Homo sapiens: one gene and its partners. The protein of the gene in region 1 binds, or shares a complex with, the protein of each later gene. Each region holds a gene or a part of one and is shown on either strand. Other genes may lie near its edges.

Region 1 (7,021 bases):
GACATTTTGCAAAGCACACCCTACTATTTTACTCAAAAGTCCAGAGACAAAGGCATTTACAGGGATCTACTTCTTTGGAAACGTATGGGTGGTACTAGGACACTGTAGTAATTAAGGCCAAACAATTTCAAGAGAAATAGCTTTCCCAACTGTTGTCTGTTCTCTCACCTCTTTATGACCTCAAATATCAAAATCTCATTTTAGATGCTTTTGGAAGAAAAATAAATGACCTGTCTTCTGTTTGCAATGCCTTTATAGTTTTGAAAGATAAACCATGTTAAAAAACCATGTACCTACCCAGTAATAGTGTGCAGGATGGACACAAAACCAAAAAAATAATAAAAATTTACAAAAATATGATTATGATCTCCATGACAAAAGGAACAGTCTCATCCTATTACAGAATAATCCTTCTATATCCACTATCATTATTTCAAAATAGCCATTTAAGTGGGCCATGCACAAAAGCTTTGTCTGATTTAAAATTTCTGAATTTCAATTTTTAAGAAGTATTATTCTCCAAGCAAGTAATATATAACACAGCACCTTGAATGCTTGTAGTCTGCAAATCATCAAAGGTACAACATTATTATTAAACTGGTAGTATATACCATGAGAGTTTGAGACATTTAAGTTTATTTTATTCTAACTTTACCACATCCTATCATTTCACTGCCAACAGAATTTGCCTGCTTCATTCAGAATTCCTACCCAAGTGCTAACAAAATCTATTTTGCCATCGTTCCATGTTATCATAAGAAGAGACTATGTTTTTATTAATTTTACAGTTGTATTTCCCCTAAAGACAAACAGCTGTAAGTTGTGCACTGAATCTAGATGCCTTAGCAAAGGAGAATCATGTCAGATCACTCACTCAAAGGATCTACCCGTGTAAGCCTTCATCATCAAAGCAACAGTCATCATGCAAGCTAAGTGGACACACCAAGTTCAGTCAGGGCAGTTTATACCAAACTAACGCTTTAATGCAGTGCTTTTCAAACTTCAGCCTTCACATAAAACAGCTTGTACACCGTAAAGCTTCAGATGCAGGCTCTGATTCAGTAGGTCTGGGGAGATGCTTGAGATTCAGCATTTCTAGCAGCTCCTCAAGGAGGGGATTCTGGGAACTGTAAGACCACACTTGGAGTGTCAAGGTTTTGCAGCATGTTTTTCATATTCCAGTATAGATTGCCAGGAGTGCATTTTTAAAGTGCCTTTTTGTTAAATAATATAAAAACTAGTAGAAGAACCATTAGTGGTGGCAAAGGAGTAAGAGTTGAATGGGCCAGCTCTGGGTGGGCCCAGCCAGGGTCTCAGAACAGAAGGTTCTTCTAAAGCTCTTCTACGTGGATATGGGGAGTATCAGGCCAATAGAGTCCTTTAGGGTTCCCTTGTGCCTATTAATCCAAACCTCTGGGGAATACCTTTCAGGATCCATCCACATTCTAAACTCCACTGGAAGCTAATGGTACTTTAGGCCAGACACAATCATTAAAATAACCTTCTGACCATTTGAACCTGGACTCTTCTCAGTGGCTCCCAAGGAGTACCAAGGACTGTGTTTGGCCTGTTTTTTTCTCCTTCTCCTTGCAATTCAGACGTTTCTGCTGAAGGTAATTTTTCAGCAGAGAAGGTAAAAGTCAGCAACCTCAGACCCCAATGACACCAAAGCCAGACCAGCACCTGAGCTACTGGCTTATCTGATAAGAATACATCTAAGAACACCCTCTTTTCTTTCAAAGAGGGGGAGGCAAGGAAAATTATCTAGAGCACTCGCTGACTAGCTATATTAACAAAAGTGCCCAGAGAAATCACAATTGCAAGAAAAACCCTAAATCCCAATGCATAAAGAAACATACATTCTCACACATTCTCTCTCTCGCACACACGTACACACCCACATGGCCAGACGATGACAGTGAAGGGACAAGCTACAAGTCAAGTATGAGGGACAGGTAAATGAAGTAAAGAAGATGGGTATAAAAAAGGTATGAAATAGAATAATAACCTCCCAAAAAATTAAATGACAAGATTGAATCATACAAAATTGCCACTATTTGACCAGAAACACAGACAACAACAATTTCATGTGGTTCAAGGTCTCAGTGGAAGTAGGCAGCCTTAGCAAAGGAGAATCAGTTAGTGGCCTTAAGAAAGGAGAAAAAATAGACGAGCAAATAATAATAGGCGATACGAAGATCTTTCTCTGACCTTCCCACTGCACCTCAGTGAATCTGTTTCTTGAAAGGTCCCATCCTCAAGACAAAAGCATCCATTGCAACACCCCTGGTTGCAGAAACAGGTCACAGAGGTAAGTTAGACGTTCACAGAAACCCTCAAACCCAGGAAAGTAACTGGCCAAGGTTAGGGAATATACGCTCATTTTCTTTAATCTGCCAGGGAAGAGTACGAATCTTTTCTTAAGGGTACAAAAATTAAAACCTATTTGAAATAAAGTAAATTAAATAAACAAACCTTCTATAAATCATCACAGCAACCCTGAGGATGCCAAAAATATATGGATCCTCAAGTAATGTATGCTTTTTTGGAGACTTATACAATTGCTAGTTTTCTGTAAATATCCCTTCCTGAATAAGCTGAAGTTCTTAAGGGATTTGAGGATTTCGACCTGTCTTTGACCCGAGTTTGTGAGCTTCTAAGTTCTTAACCAAATGGATGGAGCTATGGCTGCAAAAATGTGGGAAAGTGAAGAAAAATAAGACAACAATGATATCTGAACTTTTCTCCAAAAGTGAAGTCCTAATTTAATAATCTATACTATATCAATCATTCCTCTACCTCAAAATAATTCAAAAGACTGAGCTGAATTCTCTCAGTCAGCCTAGGTCCACTCTGGCCTCCTTTTCCCTAGAGAAGGAAAGGCTATAACATTAACAAAAGAAGTCATAATGATAATGACAGCTGAATGCTTTTTTTGAGTGTAATCTGGCACCATCAGCTTTATATGAATTATCTCACAACAAACCAATTAGAGAAAAACTATCATTATCTCCATTTTGTAAATGAAACAGTTGCAGTTCAGAGAGGTTATGTAACTTTCCTAAGGTCACAGAGCTAGCAAATTAAAAGTAGATATATATAATTGAATCTACTGCGCTTCTCAGGTTTCTTGTCTTTTGTTTTGTTTTGTTTCTTGTTTTTGTGACACAGGGTCTCACTCTGTTGCCCAGGCTGGAGTGCAGTGGCACAATCTTGGCTCACAGCAGCCTCCACCTCCCAGGTTCAAGCAGTCCTCCCATCTCAGCCTCCCAATTAGCTCGGATTACAGGCATGGGCCATCATACCTGGCTATTTTTTTATATTTTAGTAGAGATGTGGTTTCACCATGTTGGCCAGGCTGGTCTGGAACTCCTGACCTCAAGTGATCCACCCACCTAAGCCTCCCAAAGTGCTGGGATTACAGGTATTAGCCATCATGCCCAGCCAGTTCCCAAATTTCTGGCTACTAGATGGCACTACCTAACATACATGAGGACTCAAAAACTTAAGCAAAAGTCAAAACCATTAGGGGCACATTTATATTTAGTACAATGATAACATTGGGTGAGTTCTGTCCCAACTAAATGAACAGAAATATATGACTTAGGTATGATGGACAGAACAGACAGAAATGAGCAGAAAAGTGACGGGGCCCACTGGAATGTGTCTATTTTATAAGGAGCCACTGCTATTTTGTGGCTGCCCTTTTGTTCTAAATAAAGTATGGTAAGTTTTATCAAAAAAGTAAGTTACCGTTATGCTTCGAGGATTTTAAAACACACTTTGGGCTAAAAAATCTCCAGTAAAACAACAACAACAACAACAAAACCTGGGGATATGCTGGCAATCAGTAAGGCTGGAAGTCACTGCCCTAACACAAAATGAAAGAGGCTGAGTATAATATAAGATTTTCCAGATAATAAAATAACAGACAACTGATCAAGGAGAAAAAAAATATCAAATACAAAAGGTTAAAAACATTCCATTTTAAAAAAAATACAACAAGGGAATGGCAAATAAAGGAATAGAGAGCATGGTTGTCATCAACAACCCTGATTTGGCCTCTGCCCACCCTTAACACCAACACCTTCGGAATGATGAAATATTCTCTTATTGTCTCAGTGAAAATACACAAAGAGCAAGTCTAAGAACGCAAAATAGTTCACTGCAAAGGGATTAAGAGAAATTTAGGGGAACCACTAAAAAACAGGTGGAACGGAAAATGTCAGTGCCAAGGAAGTATCACTGGACACCAAAGCCTCAATCTCAACAACCATTTCCAAATAGAGTAATTTTCCTACTTAATGTGGCCTCTGTAATGACAATGAAATACCTGGGGCCACTAGGGAACCATACCAGGTAAGTATTGGTTTTGGTGGATCTATGTGTCCAAATCTGTTGTTTGCACGGGGGAATTTGTGCCACAAAGTCTCTAATGCAGGGCAATAGTTATTTCTTGAACTTTTCTATTATATGGATATTTTCATAATAATTATATTTGTGGAAAGAGGGTTAATCTCTATTTGAAAGCTTCAGTCACAGAGGCAAATAATCCAGTTATTTCATGTAGAAAGAAGACTGTGTCCTTCAGAGTGAGGAGAACAAGAAGCACCTGGTCTTTCTCTCTCCCATCTGACAAAAAAGCATAAAGACTTTTTGGAGGGCCAGTGAAGTCAACCAGTTTCAATGTGTTTCCAACTACAGCAATACACAAAACACTCTTTCCACTTGCAGAACTGACTTTTCTATGTTCAATGGCAGTTTCCAAAGGTCTATGTAGCTGAAGCACTTTTTAATGATCTTGAAAACAATAACATTTTAGCAAAGCTGATATTCTCCCAAATAAAAGCCACTGGAGAAAGGACTAGACAAAATTCAATAGGAAAAATACAACTGATAATTCTGTCTCAGATCCCCTATGATATGGTCGCATTATACTCATATTGGTTGAAAGAATGCTATCATGATATCTCGTCGAGTAATTCCACCAAACCATTCGATCACACCTACAAAGAAAACCCAACAGGTAATTCTTATGATTGGGTCTTTATGGTCTTTTTTCAAATAAATGCTCATTAATGCTGTAGAAACTAAATTCTGTTCTTGAGCCAGCAACCTTCATCACATGGTTTACCAAAAACTTTTTTCGTGGCATGCATGGCACAAGGATGTTTATCAAAAGCAAATCCTGGGTGTATACAACAATGATTAGTCTTGAAAAAAGTGCTATATCCATCCAGATTAAGGATGATATATTAGTCATAATGAGACAAGAAATGGATTAGTTGAAATTTGGGGCAAAATTACATAGCTTTTCTCCATTATCTAACTGCATTAAGACCTGAAGTTATTACAAGTTGATTTTAATCAAGTTGGTCACTTCTGTACTGTTTCTCAGGTAACATTTACACTCACAAAGATATAAATTCTGATTTTATAAACTCAAGCATGCTTTTTAAGTTAAAATAACACAGTTGAATAACGTGTAGCCTGTTTAGTTCTGATCAAACCACTTCTAGATGAATGATGAGAATATGCAGACATCACTGATAAAATCCTCACACAATGGAATGTTTTAGGTGTTAACTAACTTAAATGATCTTCCTTTTAAGTTGTAACAGAGACACAGCATCTTCCAGGCCTTAAAAATAAAGTTGAGAGCTTCCATGCTAAATTTCCAGAAGAGGTGTCTAAAACAGTTGTTCTTATTACATTCCTATACAAAAAAAAAAGTATTCTAATCAGCATTACCTGGGAATGATTAGCTGGATCTATAATCATTTCAGGGTTAAGATGGCAGAATGTACACATACACACAAATTTTACATATGACAACAGGTGATTTCTGCTTTCATTGGATGAATTCTGAAAGAGTGGAGTGAGATCTTACTGCCTTTCAAATCTGATTTCTGCTAGCAGAGAGCACCTCACTTAGAAATGTGCTTGTAAATGAACTGATGATCAATTCAGTGTCCCCGTCGTAATGTGTAGCTGCCTCAATGAGAACGTATCTTCTGCTATGTGGCTTGCCTTTGGGACTTATTCCCATTACCAACAAATACTCTCACAAGTATAAGTCACCCTTCACACTGGGAGAAAACATCTGGAAGTGCCATTTCCCATTAGTCTATTATCAGTGTAAATTTCCCACTTGAAATTTACCACCTAAGCAGGGAAAGGCAAGAAAGAGAACTTCACTCCCAACTCCCCAAATATCTGCCAAGTGGTTGCTCTGTGATATACACTTTTGTACTCTTTTCTAGGAATTGAAGAAACCCATGCTCTATTTTAAATGTATTAAGCCAAAGAAGCATTTAAAAGTGTAGAAAAAGAATTGAAGTGGAACATATTTTTGACTAATTGCTCTAAGAACTTAGGTACAGCAGACCTCAATAGCTGCTGTAAGACATTTCCAGTCCACTAAATGCCCTTCTGATGAAACAAGCAGAAATATCCCACCTTAGAAAAACCACATGTAGTATCATAAAAGAAAAAAAAATCCACATTTCGGTGCACATGAAAAAAAAACAGGCAGCTGCTACAAACGCTTTTATCTGAAGGCTTGCCTTGTCTCTACTCAGAGCCTATCTCAGATTTAAGCACAGGACAAGAAAGTCATTGTGGAAACAATAAGATTGATTGTAGTATTGATCTCCCACGGGGATTAGATTGGGATTCAAAATCTTCCAAACCAGGCCCAGATCAACTATAAATTAGAAAGACTTTGGGGCCCTGGGCTTTGATTTTTCAATACTATCTCTGAAAACTCTGCCCTTGGCTCTGTCTACCCTAAAACCCTGGCTTAAGCGGCAGATTTATAGAGCAAAAGCTTCCAAACAGACTTAAAGAAATCTCAATCTGCCTCCCTTTTTCTCCTTTTCCCTCTGTGGAATTCTTGCACGTTTAGCTGACTAGAGGCATGCCTTTTGCCCTCATCTTCCCCATCACTTGATTTCTCTCCAATTCTTCCAGGAGGAGTAGCTCTTCTGGCTGCAAGCCAGGAAGAGGGTGCGGAGTTACT
Region 2 (7,504 bases), on another chromosome or scaffold:
TCACACCACTGCACTCCAGCCTGGGTGACAGAGTAAGATTCTGTCTCAAAAAAAAAAGAATCTTTGTTGGTAAATTCCTTCAGGTTTTGATGTGTTTGAAAATGTTTTACTTATTTTTAATTCTGGAATAATATTTTAGCTGAGTATGGAAGTCTAGGTTGGCAGTTACTATCTCTTGGCTTATCAGAGCCACACCACAACTGTATTCTCAACAAAAGAGAGATGACACACCACTCTGCTACCACAAAAATGACCAGATAATCCCCTCTTCAGACTAACATGAGTAACTAATGCTTTTTTCTCTTTACCAATTTGGGTTATAATCCTCTTGCTTCCTAGGTAAGAATTATTTAGACACCCAATCACTGAAACGCCCCCACTTCTTAACAGTATTCAATCCCAAATTAGTCCTCATTCAGAGTTTTAGAGACTAGGAAAAAACAAACAAACAACAAAATCAGCCCTCACTATTCTAAACTGTAGTTCAGAAATATCCAACAGAAGCTGAAACTCTATAAGAGGTTCCTTTTAACCTCTCCTTAGGGAAATGGTCCCATAATTCCTTTGGGGCATTCTCTCCCTTGCTACAGCAAGCCAGTAGATTTAACTTTTTTGACTACAGATTTGTTTCCAGTGGTGTTTAGTTAATGAGCTTTGACAAAGATAATGGTCAAATTTCTCCAATATCAATTGACTATGTGAAGAATATACATATATATACACACACACACACACACACATATTTGTGTGTGTGTATGTAATATATACATATTTATATAAGAACATATTGGCAGGGCGCAGTGGCTTATGCCTGTAATCCCAGCACTTTGGAAGGCCAAGGTGGGCGGATCACTTGAGCCCAGGAGTTCGAGACCAGCCTGGCCAACATGGCAAAACCCCATCTCTACTAAAAATACAAAATTAGCTGAGTGTGATGACACATGCCTGTAATCCTAGCTACTCAGGTGGCTGAGGCATGAGAATCACTTGAACCCAGGTGGCAGAGGCTGCAGTGAGCCGAGATCTCTGGGTGACAGAGGGAGACCCTGTCTCAAAAGAAAAAGAAAAGAAAGAACGAACCCAGGTCATTTGTCCTGTAGAGTATTCACAAAGTCTGAATTTGCACCTTTGAGTTACCACTTAATGTCTCCTGTATTTCCTGTAAATTAGTAGTTAGCTCTAATCAGATTCAGACTGGTTTGTTTGTTTGTTTGTTTGTTTGTTTGTTTTTGGTATGGCTACTTCATGCAAGGTGGAGTTATGTACTCTATGATCAGGAAAACATGTTTATCTCTGTTTTCATGATGAATAACAGCCACTGTTTTTTTGTTTACGTAGAGATGGGCTCTTACTATGTTGTCCAGGCTGGTTTTGAACTCCTGGGCTTAAGCAATCCTCCCACCTCAGCCTCCCAAAATGCTGGGATTACAGGTGTGAGCCACTGTGCCCTGCCACAGTCATTGTTGACCATTGCCTAGATATATTAATTCATTTGGATTTACAAAATGTTGATATTCTAATTATATTATCCCTTCTTCAATTATTTACTGGAATGCTTCTATAAAGAGAAATTTCCCCCTCATCTTGAGATACAGTTCCCAAAAGAAAACCAGGATAAATACTTGATTCTTTCCAATTACCAGCAGTTTTTAAAATAATGAGTTGATCTGCCAGCATTCTCCAACAATGACCAATGGGTTTGTATTTTTAAGTATCATTGTGAATTCATGGATTTAAACATATTTTATGAATTTCAATCCATTGCAGATAGTATCCATTTTGATACTTAAATTGCCCCATCTTTGGCCAATGGGAACTATTCTAGTTGGCTCCTAAGTTCTTTTATTACAATCCTAACACTCTTTGAAAGCTTCCTTGCCTATCTTGGACAATACCTGCCCCAAACCTGAAATCAGCCACTTATCCAAGGAGTTGTTTGTTGGTCCCTTTTAACAGAAAATGGTATTTACATAGCACAATTTGAGTACTAGAGGTGTTTATTTTTACTGGATCATTGTTTCCAGGCCTTTTTAGGGTAAAGCTAGGAAAATTTTAAGGATAAAATAAACCATGAGTTCAGAGTTATATTTGCAATTTAAATTCAGAATTACGGAGTTTTCTCTTAACTTCATCAATCGTAAATATGTATCTCTTTATTCCACCCCAAAAATTCTGGTTCTCAGAGACACTAACATTATTAATCATTTGTTTTATCTCATAACTAAAATAATCTCAGAATAACAATACCAACACTAACACCATAATATGGCTATTTAAAAATATTTTTGCATTTATTTTCTGGCATTATAGTATATCCCACTTAGGCTGTCATAGTCAAATTATTATGTTTTAAAGTCACTTGAATAGTTTGGTTAGAAGCATTTTACATTTCTATAATGAAACTGCTTGTGATATGGCCTCTAATGGTTGAGAAATATTTGTCATATATATATACCTGAGAAGTATATATTTGACAAAAATATTTGTCATATATATACCTGAGAAGAGTGCTATGAGGGCCTCTAGACTCTGTATTAAAATAGAGCCAACTGGTAAAGATGGCTTAGTGATTGTGTTGGTTATTACTGAGTGTCAATTTGATTGGATTGAAGGATACAAAGTATTGATCCTGGGTGTGTCTGTGAGGGTGTTGCCAAAAGAAATTAACATTTGAGTCAGTGGGCTGGGAAAGGCAGATCCACCCTTAATCTGGGTGAGCACAATCTAATTCACTGCCAGCACAGCTAGAATAAAAAGCAGGCAGAAAAATATGAAAGGAGAGACTGGCCTAGCCTCCCAGCCTACATATTTCTCCCATGCTGGATGCTTCCTGCCCTTGAACATCAGACTCCAAGTTCTTCAATTTTGAGACTGAGACTGGCTCTCCTTGCCCCTCAAGCTTGCAGACAGCCTACTGTGGGACCCTGTGATTGTGTAAGTTAATACTTAATAAATTCCCCTTTATTTATATATCTACCTATATAGATATCCATATCTATATAGATATTAATAAATCTAGAGAGACAGAAAGCAGACTGGTGATGGCCAGTCTAGATGGCTAGATAGATAGACATGGATATAGATATAGATCTCTATATAGATAGAGGTAGATACAGATATAGATATATGCCCTATTAGTTCTGTTCCTCTAGAGAACCCTAATACAGTGACCGTATTTGGAATCGGTCCTTCTGTTAATTTCACTTGGCAAGTACTAAAAGATGATGATCTCAGATATACCTATGGCTGCAAAAACATGACATGGCTAAATCCCTTGGTTGCAGTATCTCTTTTCTTTTTTAAGGGGGGTGGGGGGGCGGGTCTCACTGTTGCCCAGGCTGGAGTGCAATGGCGTTATCATAGCTCACTGCAGCCTCAAACTCCTGCGCTCAAGTGACCCTCCTGCCTCAGCTCCCAAAGTGCTGAGATTTTGCAATATTTATGGTCACAAGATTATGTTATTCCATAAAAGTATCTTTCTGAGGCTAGGCATGTTGGTTCACACTTGTAATCCCAGCACTCTGAGAGGCTGAGATGGAAGGATTCATTGAGGCAAGGAGTTCAAGACCAGCCTGGTCAACATAGTGAGACCTCATCTCGGAAGGAAGGAAGGAAGGAGGGAGGGAGGGAGGGAGGGAGTGAAGGAAGGAAGGAAGGAAGGAAGGAAGGAAGGAAGGAAGGAAGGAAAAGTATATTTTTGAATCTTTTTCTATTTCTCCAACTCTTTCTTTAGAAGAATTCTATTTCCATTCTTTCTTCACCTCTTTGCCTTTGTTAGCCTTCTCTCCAAGCAAATCGGGAGCCTTTATTTTTTGTGTATTCATGAGGGAGAGGAAGATGAATTGCTGTACAAACTAAAGTAATGAAAATGGAGTAGGTAGGAGGATAGACAGCTGCAAGGATCTGAGCTGGATAGACTGAACAAACCCTCATCCTAAGCAACTCACAGCTCAGATTTCTTCTCTGGACAGCTGGCTTTTTTCGTCCTTCTGAAATACTCTGCAAAGATAGGAGAGGGGCTATGAACTACCTCTGCTATGGATCTTATTCAAAGTCAGCTACCTCCTAGATACTATCTGTAGAACCTAAATGTAATATTCAGCATAGCAGGGATGAACATGGTAAATGAAAGGTATCCAATTGCCCACTGTAATTTTTAAAGGCCAGGAGCTCAACATTATTGAAAATGCTGGAGGGCTGCCTGGAGTAGGCAGTGACCACAGAGTCACACAAGCTGGAATTGGATATCCAACTTGTCTGTCATATTTCTCTCCTCCCTCCCTGACTTGGCACTCAATACTCCATATTCTTTCTAATCCTCTAACCCTCCCCACTCCCCCAACTCCCACACCCTACCCCCACCAACGTTCCTGGAATTTTGGACTTAGCTATTTTTAAAACCGTCAACTCAGTAGCCACCTCCCTCCCTGCTCAGCTGTCCAGTACTCTGGCCAGCCATATACTCCCCCTTCCCCCCATACCAAACCTTCTCTGGTTCCCTGACCTCAGTGAGACAGCAGCCGGCCTGGGGACCTGGGGGAGACACGGAGGACCCCCTGGCTGGAGCTGACCCACAGAGTAGGGAATCATGGCTGGAGAATTGGATAGCAGAGTAATGTTTGACCTCTGGAAACAGTAAGTCAAAATGAAATTGCAATTCCTTTAATAAGCTTTTATATTGAAGTTAGACTTTTATAAAATTACAAACACCTACTTGGATGTCTCTCGTCCAAATGCTGGGATCTCTCCCTACCAAGGTGCCCCAATCTCCATTTCTCTTTCTGTCTTATTTCTTTCTGGCCTCTGGCCTCTAGCTTTTTGAAGTTTAATTCTCTGTCTCTCCTCTGGCAGTCTTAGCCCTCTCTTTACCTTATTACCTCAAGACTCCTGATGAAGTTTTAGAAGGAGTTCCCTACGTCCTCTATTCTGTAGTTTTCTTACCAAGGCCAAATATGACCTCAGATGATGAGTCACTGATACCCTTCTATCCTGCCCCCACTTAGCAATGCCCTTCACATTGAGATTCCAAGCATGGGGGCTGCTCCCTGTAAATGATTTCTCCCCACAACTCTAGTCCCTCCATTCTATTCTCCCTCTTGCAGGACTCTTCCCCCAATCATATCCTTACCCATAAGATAGGGGAGTTAGGCAGGAGGGATTTAGCCCCTCTCCAACTCCTGTCATCATAAAAGACTGAGAACTTCAGAATTTGAAAAGAAGAGATTAATGGAAGGAGTGATATTTGGGAAAATACAAGAACTGTTGACTTAGAAAAAACAAATATTGATTTGCATGTTTGGTTTGCATCCCATTATTCCATGAGAGAGGGAGATTAAAATTGCAGCTCTCTAGAGCTGATGAAAAGAGATTGGTTTCCTTTTCATTTGAATACTGATATTCTAGACGGGATGGGTATGCCACCCTTAATCCTTCTTGTGTTCTGACACAAAGGAGGAAAAGAAATGTATGACTCCTAGAGGGCATCTCCTCCTAATGGAGAGGGACAAATAAGAAGTATGTTTCTGAAATATTTTCAGGTCCTAATTTTACTAGGGTACCCACTAGGATTACTGGTATCTGATCTAGCCCCATGATTCCTCCATCTTTGACATACCTGCTGTTTGGTAGCTCAGAATGGAGCAATACAGTGGACTCTGCCCCCTTGAGTTCACTCAACCTTCCCTCCACCCCCACCTAGGGGTATTGCACAAGGGCCCTAAAAGTGGCCACAGGAACAGGGCAAAGAGGCTTAACTGCCACACTTATAGTTTGAGGAACTCCAATCTCCCCAAATTCCAGTCTGTTCATCCTTTTCTTGATCTCCCCAGATTCACTCCACATTATCCTTACCAATCTTCAATTCTTCTCTCTCTCCATGTCCAGCCAAATTTCTTTTTTCAGTCACTTACAGGGCTTCCGGTCAAAATTCACTAGGTAGGAGGGTCATCAGCTGGGAAGAACCGGCGCCTGGGAAACCTGGCTGGATAGGTATGGGGGAGCCAGGCCAGTCCCCTAGTCCCAGGTCCTCCCATGGCAGTCCCCCAACTCTAAGCACTCTCACTCTCCTGCTGCTCCTCTGTGGACATGGTAAGGAAGGGCCAGGGAAGGGTTTGGGGAAATCTAGAGGGTAGGCTGCTATGTAGGGGTGGGCATGTGAGCCTGAATGAGTGAGGAGAGATAGGCGCTGAGAGTCCCGATCACTCGCCCTGCTCTCAAATACTAATATTTTATTTCCCGTTCAGTCTGGGGAAGGCCACTGGGGAAGCCCTTGGTCGACAGGCAGAAGAGATGTGGCAGGCTTACACACTTTTAGTAAGACAGCCGAGAGAACTAGGGACTAGGGGGTTGGGGGCTGGGGAAGGCCCTTAGTTAGGTTTTAGGAAGGCTGGAAACCCCTGATGAGATTTGGAAGAGTTATGAGCAAACTACACTCCGATAGAGCAGAGGTCTGAGGACCGTCTCACAATCCTCTCCCTTCTGTCTTTAGCTCATTCTCAATGCAAGATCCTCCGCTGCAATGCTGAGTACGTATCGTCCACTCTGAGCCTTAGAGGTGGGGGTTCATCAGGAGCACTTCGAGGAGGAGGAGGAGGAGGCCGGGGTGGAGGGGTGGGCTCTGGCGGCCTCTGTCGAGCCCTCCGCTCCTATGCGCTCTGCACTCGGCGCACCGCCCGCACCTGCCGCGGGGACCTCGCCTTCCATTCGGCGGTACATGGCATCGAAGACCTGATGATCCAGCACAACTGCTCCCGCCAGGGCCCTACAGCCCCTCCCCCGCCCCGGGGCCCCGCCCTTCCAGGCGCGGGCTCCGGCCTCCCTGCCCCGGACCCTTGTGACTATGAAGGCCGGTTTTCCCGGCTGCATGGTCGTCCCCCGGGGTTCTTGCATTGCGCTTCCTTCGGGGACCCCCATGTGCGCAGCTTCCACCATCACTTTCACACATGCCGTGTCCAAGGAGCTTGGCCTCTACTGGATAATGACTTCCTCTTTGTCCAAGCCACCAGCTCCCCCATGGCGTTGGGGGCCAACGCTACCGCCACCCGGAAGGTCAGGCACTCAATCTTCCTTCCGATCCACCTCATGAGATTCTTCCACGGGCACCATTCCTCCCCATCCCCACTATTCAACAGCAATGCTCCCTAATTCCCTTTTCTTCCTCAACCTCTCCCCCATCTCGAATCACTCCCTTCTACCAAACACCTGGAGCTGTAAATCACTTCCCCTTGATGGGAATTTGACTCAAATGCAGAAAACCTTGAAGAGACAGTCGGAGAGGGCGGACCTGAGGAGTTTCAGAAGGGAAACTTTTCCCTCTCCTAGGAAGTTGCCACGATTAAGTAGAGAGGGGGTTAAGTAGGGATGAGGTAATACTGGAACATAAATAGGAGAAGGGATCAAGGATTGAGGGCCATAGTAGTCCTGCATCTCTACTTGGATCAGATCTCTAACTATGTATGAGGTCTGATTGGGGGGAAGATGCACTGAACCCAAAATGAACTGTTTT
Region 3 (7,021 bases), on another chromosome or scaffold:
AGGACAGCGAGGTGACCTGGCAGCCAAGGAAATGCTCCATCCCTGCCACTTCCCTCTGCTCCGGTGGCCCTTGCCTGCCTGCAGGGGGTCACTTTCTGGTCCCTGGCTGGGCGGGAAATAAGCAGGTCTTCGCCCTGTGGATTCCCAAGCGGGCCCTTGGCACCACAACATGACACCTAATGGAGAAGACTTGCAGCCGGTACACTCCACCCTGTGCCCCCGCAGCCCTCCGCATACTCAGGGCCTGCCTGCATCAAGGACCCAGCCACCTCCCCCACGGCCCCTGCACCTCCCCACCACCCGCCCTCCTGAGAGCCAAGACAGACGGACGCCAGGAGCCTGAGGCTGCAGCTTCTAAATCCAGGCACCAGCACGCTTCAGAGGGGACCTGGCCTCCCTGTCCCATCCTGCAGGTTCCCAAGGGCTGGCAGGGCGCACAGGGAGGTCTGAGGATGTGAGAGGGATGTGGACCCCAGGTGGCTCGCTCCTCCAGACCCCAGGGGGTGGAAGCACCAAATGCGACAACAGAGCCAAGCCACGCACCGGGGAGGATTTGTGATTTGTGTGCAGGGAGGCTGGGCTGCTGCCCCCATTATGGATGGGGGTGATGTGACGGGGTGGAGCAGTGGAGGGAGAACTTCCCTTCCTATCCCAGCATGGAGGCTTCCAGAAGAGTATGAAGCAGAGCTTCACCAACCCAGCCCATTTCTGCTGCAACCGAAGGCCACCTTTGATCTCAGCAGGCTGAGAGCTCAGCCCTGTCAACCAGGCTCTGCTGGAGGCCAGACAGTGACAGCGTCAGTGTCTGTGGCCAAGTCAGTCTCAGAACTCGGGCCAGACTGGGGTATTGTGGTCCCCCGGTGAGAACGTCGGTGGCTGGCTTCAGGCACCTTTGGCCTGCCCCCGCCTGTCTGTCAGGCCTCCGTTACTCAGGTGTGTTTGTTCACTCATTGATGGAGCAAACACTTAACAGACGTTGCATCTGTGCCAGCCTCTGAGCTAGTTGTTGCCCTCCCTCCCAGAAGCTCCCAGGCTAGTGAAGAGCAAAGACCAGCAAAGGGGAGCTGGCGATGGAGGCTGGGGCAGCAGGATGTTGAAGGCCATTGGGAGCCTTGGCTCTGTCCAGAGAACTGGGGAGCCCATCCACCAAGCTCGCCCCTGAAGCACAGCGCAAGTTTCCGGATGGAGGAACAGAGGAGTCGACATCCAAAGCAGGCGGAGTGGGAGAGCAGCCTGGTGTCTGCAGGGAGCAGGGAAAGGCAAGGGACTTTCATCTCCAAGATGATGAGGCCTCTGGGTTTCTGTGACCACCTCGACTACCACCAACAGAGCCCTCTGGGCCTGCCAGACTCTACCACCCACTGGAACCCACTCCCCTTTCCCCTCTCAGGCAGCCAGAGACTCCATCTGTCCCTGCACACCTGCCCTTGAGGGCCTCTCCTCAGGCTTCCCAGAGTGTGTCCAGCCCCTGCCTGGCCTGACCCTGACCTTGCAGCTATGAGATTTGCCTTCCTGTGCAGAAGCTCCGTGTGCAAGCTGTGTGTGCATGAAGCTGCCCCCAAACACCCGGGCATCACTAGGGGCCTTTATTTGTTTCTCATGATACTGGCAGTATCAGCCAATCAGCCAATCCCTCTGTTCTTGTGGACGATCAAGATCTAGTGTTTTCTACGTGGACATTTTAGCCAGTGTCTTACCCCCGTGGGACAGCCTTCTGTGCCCAGCCTCCTGCTCCATCACCCTCTTCCCATCTGTGCTGCTGATACCCATTTTACAGACAAAGAAACTGAGACTCAGGAGAGGACAGGAACTCAAGTCCTGCGCCTTCCCCTTCCTTTCCCCGCTGGTTAGTTTTCCCCATAGCACTTGCCAGCCTGTCCCTCTGCATGATTCATTTGCTTAGTCTGCGACCCCCTGAAGCATAGGGATCTTCTCCCTCGTGTACCCCGAGCCCCCAGCACCAGGCCTGGCATGGAGGTGGTGCTCCGTAGATAGTAGCTGATGCAGCCTGGGCTCTGCCTCGTGCCCGGTGCAGTGGAAAGGGCCAGGACCCCTTCAGAAGGGGGAGCAGCAGAGACAGGAGCGGCAGCCCGCCCGTGGCTGTGTTGGCAGCGAGCCGCCAGCTTTCGACAGGCCCCCTTCATGCTGTTACTTGCGGTTGAGTCCCTGGCACCGGTGCCAAGAAGAGTCAAGCAGCCTGTCAGCCTTCCAGGAGGCTGTCTCTGCGAGAGATGGTGGTTAGAGCGAAACCAGCCTTTCCTGTTCCAGGGAGACTGATGGCACTTGGAAAGCAGGACGCCGCCCCCCCCCACCCCCAGTGTCTGTGTGGCCCTGCACACCAGGCAGGGACACCAGAGTCCCCCATCCTCCCCCCATGGCAGGACCACCCACGGCCCAGACCACCCTGGCTGGCCCACCTCCGGCACCCCCAGGCGGCCTCCCCACCGAGGTGGGCTGGCCAGTGGGTGGAAAGAAGGAAGAAGTAGGAGGCTGAACCGTATGAAGTTGCCGTTTCCATAGGTCAGGAATGGTAGAGTAGCAGCAATCTCATCAGGTTCGAGGCTTAGGGCTCCATGCTGGATGGAGAGGCTGCAGCCGCAGCCACCTTTGACATCCCACGGCAAATGGGAAGTGTGCCGTGTCCTGCGGCCAGGCTGGGACCCCTGTAGGAAGGGATGCGAGGAAATCGAGTCCGGTCCTCAAGGAACTGTGCGCTTGGGGTCCTCCTGGTGCTGCTGCATGGACTCCCGCAGAGCCCCGACCCTCCGCAGCCTCCATCAGGCACAGAAAGCACAGCGCCGGGTGCCCAAGATGAACGGGCTCATGAGAAGACCGCCATTTCTTGTAAAGTCCTCCAGCAGCCTGCCCCTCGTTCAGCTCCTCCCAGCCTTGCCTGACTAACACATTTTCCTTCTTCAGAAGCCTTGGCCTAGGGTCTCCCTCTGTTCTTCCGGGGGTTCCACACCCCTCAGGCTACCAGTTCTCCCCACCTCATCATCCCGAAATCTTATGCCAATATGGGGAACCCACAAAGCCACAGCAACACGGCCAGGGGCACCTCTAGTGGCTCTGAATACCCCACTGGCTTGTATTACCTAGAAGGTTCTGGAACCCCTTTCCAGGCCTCAGGCCTCTTAGCACCTGGTCCTGAGGCCATGACCCTGGGCCAGCCCGCCCCAAACAGGCCACTCTGCTGCACCCCTGGCCTCCGGGCCCCAGAGAACAGGATGGCCTCATGCTGCATTCCTGGCCAGACCCCACCTTCCACCTTCCTGCGACTCTCCTGCCTGAGCTGAGGTCCTTCTGTGGTTTCCCTGCCTGCCCTTCCCCATCAGAGCAGCTTGTTATTTCCTGTTGCTTTCTAGCACCTCGCACTGTGCCCTCGCCACACATCTGCTGTTAGGCCAGAAACTCCCTTGGCACGCGGCGGCATTGCCCTCTACCCAGAGAGCCGGCAGGCAGTCCTCATGCCTCCCCCAAGTGCCCAGGCAGAGAACGGCTGTGCATGTCATCAGCAGCTCCCCCTTGCTCAGACCCCTTCAGCCTGCAGACCCTCTGAGGCCAGGTTGGGGTGGGATCCCCTGGGAGCTCTGTCAGCCAGCCAGCTAGCTGGCCACACCCTCTCCTGGGTGGGGAGGGATGAGCCCTGACCTACAGAGGGGTGAGGGGTTGGGGCTTAGTGGTGGGGGTAGTTGCCGGGCCTGGGAGAGGGTAGTGCAGCAGATAAAGGTGGGATTTTAGCAGGAGGTCCCAAAAGGCCTGGGTGCCACCTTGTCCCCTTTGCCCCACCTCCCTTCGTGGCTTCAGGCTGGGAGTCCAGGTTCCAGCTGCCCTTGGTCCAGGGGGACCAAGGCACCCAGAGCTCCCATGGCAAAACAGCTGACACCTGGGAAAGGAGTGGAAGAAGGGGTGGTTTTTTCTCTCCCAGTTTCTCTGTTTCCAACCCAGAAACCTGCTTAGGGTTAGGGAGGAAAGAACAGCCAGACGCCACCCAGGACGCGGACGGCAGAGGAAACTCACCTGCTCCCCTGGCCACCGGCCCTCCTCCTCTCAGGCCTCCCACCCTATGGGCTTGTGGCCAAGAGAGCCCAGAGTCTGGAAACGCAGAGTCTAATCCCAGCTCTGCCTCTTGCTGGCTGTGTGACCTTAGGCAAGTTACTGCCTCTCTCTGAGCCTACATTTTCTCATCCGGAAAATTGAGAGTAATGTCACCGACCCTTGCAGTGTCACACGAGACTGGAAGTAATACATGCAGTGCTTAGCATGCTGTATGCAGCCAATGCCTCTGTGTCTGGCTCTCAGGAGAACAGTGCCACCCAGCCAGCTGCTGCTCCAGCAGCTCAGTCCAGCCCCTCACCCCTGGCCACAGGCTCCAGCAGAAAGGAGCCTCCCTGCTCCAGCCCCGGCCAAGGCTGCCCGTTCAGCCTGGAACCTCCATCTCCCTTTTACCGACCAGCACCTTGCTCCTTTCCTGTTCCCCTCCTCCATGACCCAGCTTGGGGACCCCTTTCAGCAGCCTTGGGACAGTGGCTTCTGCTTGCCTCTGCCTGCTTGCATGGATTTTGCCCTATTCATTCTTTCTTTGAGCATCATTTCCCTCCATTCCACCTGCTGTAATGTTCAGACATTTGCTTGGGTCCTTTGTCAGGAATTGTGCTCCAGTACCACTGTCATTATGCAAGATGATGTTTGCAAACCATATTCATTTCCTATCGCCACTGTAGCAAATTAGCATAAACTGAGTGGTTCAAACCAACAGAAATGTTTTATAATTGTGGAGGCCGGAAGTTGGGAATATGTCTCGTGGGGATAAAATCAAGGTATCAGCAGGGCTGGTCCTGGAGACTCCAGGGGAGAATCCATTCATTGCCATTTCCAGCTTTTGGTGGTTGCCAGCATCCCTTGGTTTGTGGCCACATCATTCGAATCTCTGCCTTGTTGAGCACATCACCTTCTCCTCTGTCCTAGTTAGTCAAATCTCCCTCTGCCTCCTTCTTATAAAGATACTTGTGATTCCATCTAGGGCCCACCCAGGTAATCCAGAATAATCTCTTCATCTCAGTGTTCTTAACCTAATCATATCTGCAGGGTCCCTTTTGCCATCTAAGGGAACATTCCCAAGTTACAGGGATTAGGGCATGTTCTTCTTGGGAGCCATTATTCAGCCTACCACACTGGGCTTTTGACCTTTTATTTTTAATTATCTATGCTTTTATTTTTCTGGTTCACTTCCCTATATAGTAAAAGAGCTAGTTTTCTACTTAGGGTAGTGGTCTAACATTTTTCTAAGTCACTTTTTAAAGTAAAAAGGGCAAGTTGTTTTCATTGAAAGAATGTGAAGTGCACAGCTGCGCAGGTGGAACTGATCTGTCCAACCTGGAGAAGGGAGTGTCTGGGGCATCCCTGGGGATCCTTCCTGCCCTCCTCTCAGTCTAGAGCATCTTAAGTGTGGGGCTGTGCCTCCTCCCACTGTGCCTCACCCACTCTCCTCTGCCCCTTTCCCCGGCAGCTCACCATCATCTTCAAGAACTTCCAGGAGTGTGTGGACCAGAAGGTGTACCAGGCTGAGATGGACGAGCTCCCGGCCGCCTTCGTGGATGGCTCTAAGAACGGTGGGGACAAGCACGGGGCCAACAGCCTGAAGATCACTGAGAAGGTGTCAGGCCAGCACGTGGAGATCCAGGCCAAGTACATCGGCACCACCATCGTGGTGCGCCAGGTGGGCCGCTACCTGACCTTTGCCGTCCGCATGCCAGAGGAAGTGGTCAATGCTGTGGAGGACTGGGACAGCCAGGGTCTCTACCTCTGCCTGCGGGGCTGCCCCCTCAACCAGCAGATCGACTTCCAGGCCTTCCACACCAATGCTGAGGGCACCGGTGCCCGCAGGCTGGCAGCCGCCAGCCCTGCACCCACAGCCCCCGAGACCTTCCCATACGAGACAGCCGTGGCCAAGTGCAAGGAGAAGCTGCCGGTGGAGGACCTGTACTACCAGGCCTGCGTCTTCGACCTCCTCACCACGGGCGACGTGAACTTCACACTGGCCGCCTACTACGCGTTGGAGGATGTCAAGATGCTCCACTCCAACAAAGACAAACTGCACCTGTATGAGAGGACTCGGGACCTGCCAGGCAGGGCGGCTGCGGGGCTGCCCCTGGCCCCCCGGCCCCTCCTGGGCGCCCTCGTCCCGCTCCTGGCCCTGCTCCCTGTGTTCTGCTAGACGCGTAGATGTGGAGGGAGGCGCGGGCTCCGTCCTCTCGGCTTCCCCATGTGTGGGCTGGGACCGCCCACGGGGTGCAGATCTCCTGGCGTGTCCACCATGGCCCCGCAGAACGCCAGGGACCGCCTGCTGCCAAGGGCTCAGGCACGGACCCCTCCCCTTCTAGTGCACGTGACAAGGTTGTGGTGACTGGTGCCATGATGTTTGACAGTAGAGCTGTGTGAGAGGGAGAGCAGCTCCCCTCGCCCCGCCCCTGCAGTGTGAATGTGTGAAACATCCCCTCAGGCTGAAGCCCCCCACCCCCACCAGAGACACACTGGGAACCGTCAGAGTCAGCTCCTTCCCCCTCGCAATGCACTGAAAGGCCCGGCCGACTGCTGCTCGCCGATCCGTGGGGCCCCCTGTGCCCGCCACACGCACGCACACACTCTTACACGAGAGCACACTCGATCCCCCTAGGCCAGCGGGGACACCCCAGCCACACAGGGAGGCATCCTTGGGGCTTGGCCCCAGGCAGGGCAACCCCGGGGCGCTGCTTGGCACCTTAGCAGACTGCTGGAACCTTTTGGCCAGTAGGTCGTGCCCGCCTGGTGCCTTCTGGCCTGTGGCCTCCCTGCCCATGTTCACCTGGCTGCTGTGGGTACCAGTGCAGGTCCCGGTTTTCAGGCACCTGCTCAGCTGCCCGTCTCTGGCCTGGGCCCCTGCCCCTTCCACCCTGTGCTTAGAAAGTCGAAGTGCTTGGTTCTAAATGTCTAAACAGAGAAGAGATCCTTGACTTCTGTTCCTCTCTCTCCTGCAGATGCA

Evidence for each region. The genes of interacting proteins can lie anywhere in the genome.
Region 2: the proteins of BMP2 (region 1) and HJV are in contact, whole or in part, in a crystal structure (PDB 4UI1), measured with the Homo sapiens proteins. Residues at the interface, in NP_001191.1 of Homo sapiens: Phe331, Pro332, Ala334, Asp335, Leu337, Asn341, Ile344, Val345, Leu348, Ser351, Val352; in NP_001366281.1 of Homo sapiens: Leu40, Asn43, Tyr46, Val47, Tyr86, Leu101, Ala102, Ser105, Ala106, His108, Gly109, Ile110, Asp112, Leu113.
Region 3: the proteins of BMP2 (region 1) and RGMA are in contact, whole or in part, in a crystal structure (PDB 4UHY), measured with the Homo sapiens proteins. Residues at the interface, in NP_001191.1 of Homo sapiens: Val308, Gly309, Trp310, Asp312, Trp313, Met371, Tyr373, Leu374, Asp375, Glu376, Lys383, Tyr385, Met388; in NP_064596.2 of Homo sapiens: Arg91, Arg94, Gly95, Leu97, His100, Ser101, His104.

What each region holds. Positions count from the first base shown.
Region 1 is NC_000020.11:6,770,669-6,777,689, reverse strand, and holds part of BMP2 (bone morphogenetic protein 2 preproprotein), read right to left. Parts: intron 1-7,021. UniProt on the Homo sapiens protein: Growth factor of the TGF-beta superfamily that plays essential roles in many developmental processes, including cardiogenesis, neurogenesis, and osteogenesis. Induces cartilage and bone formation.
Region 2 is NC_000001.11:146,018,718-146,026,221, reverse strand, and holds the start of HJV (hemojuvelin isoform a precursor), read left to right. Parts: upstream 1-4,486; 5' UTR 4,487-4,635; intron 4,636-5,883; exon of another isoform or gene 5,884-5,901; 5' UTR 5,902-5,990; coding exon 5,991-6,087; intron 6,088-6,487; coding exon 6,488-7,047; intron 7,048-7,504. UniProt on the Homo sapiens protein: Acts as a bone morphogenetic protein (BMP) coreceptor. Through enhancement of BMP signaling regulates hepcidin (HAMP) expression and regulates iron homeostasis.
Region 3 is NC_000015.10:93,044,194-93,051,214, reverse strand, and holds part of RGMA (repulsive guidance molecule A isoform 3 precursor), read left to right. Parts: intron 1-5,509; coding exon 5,510-6,217; 3' UTR 6,218-7,021.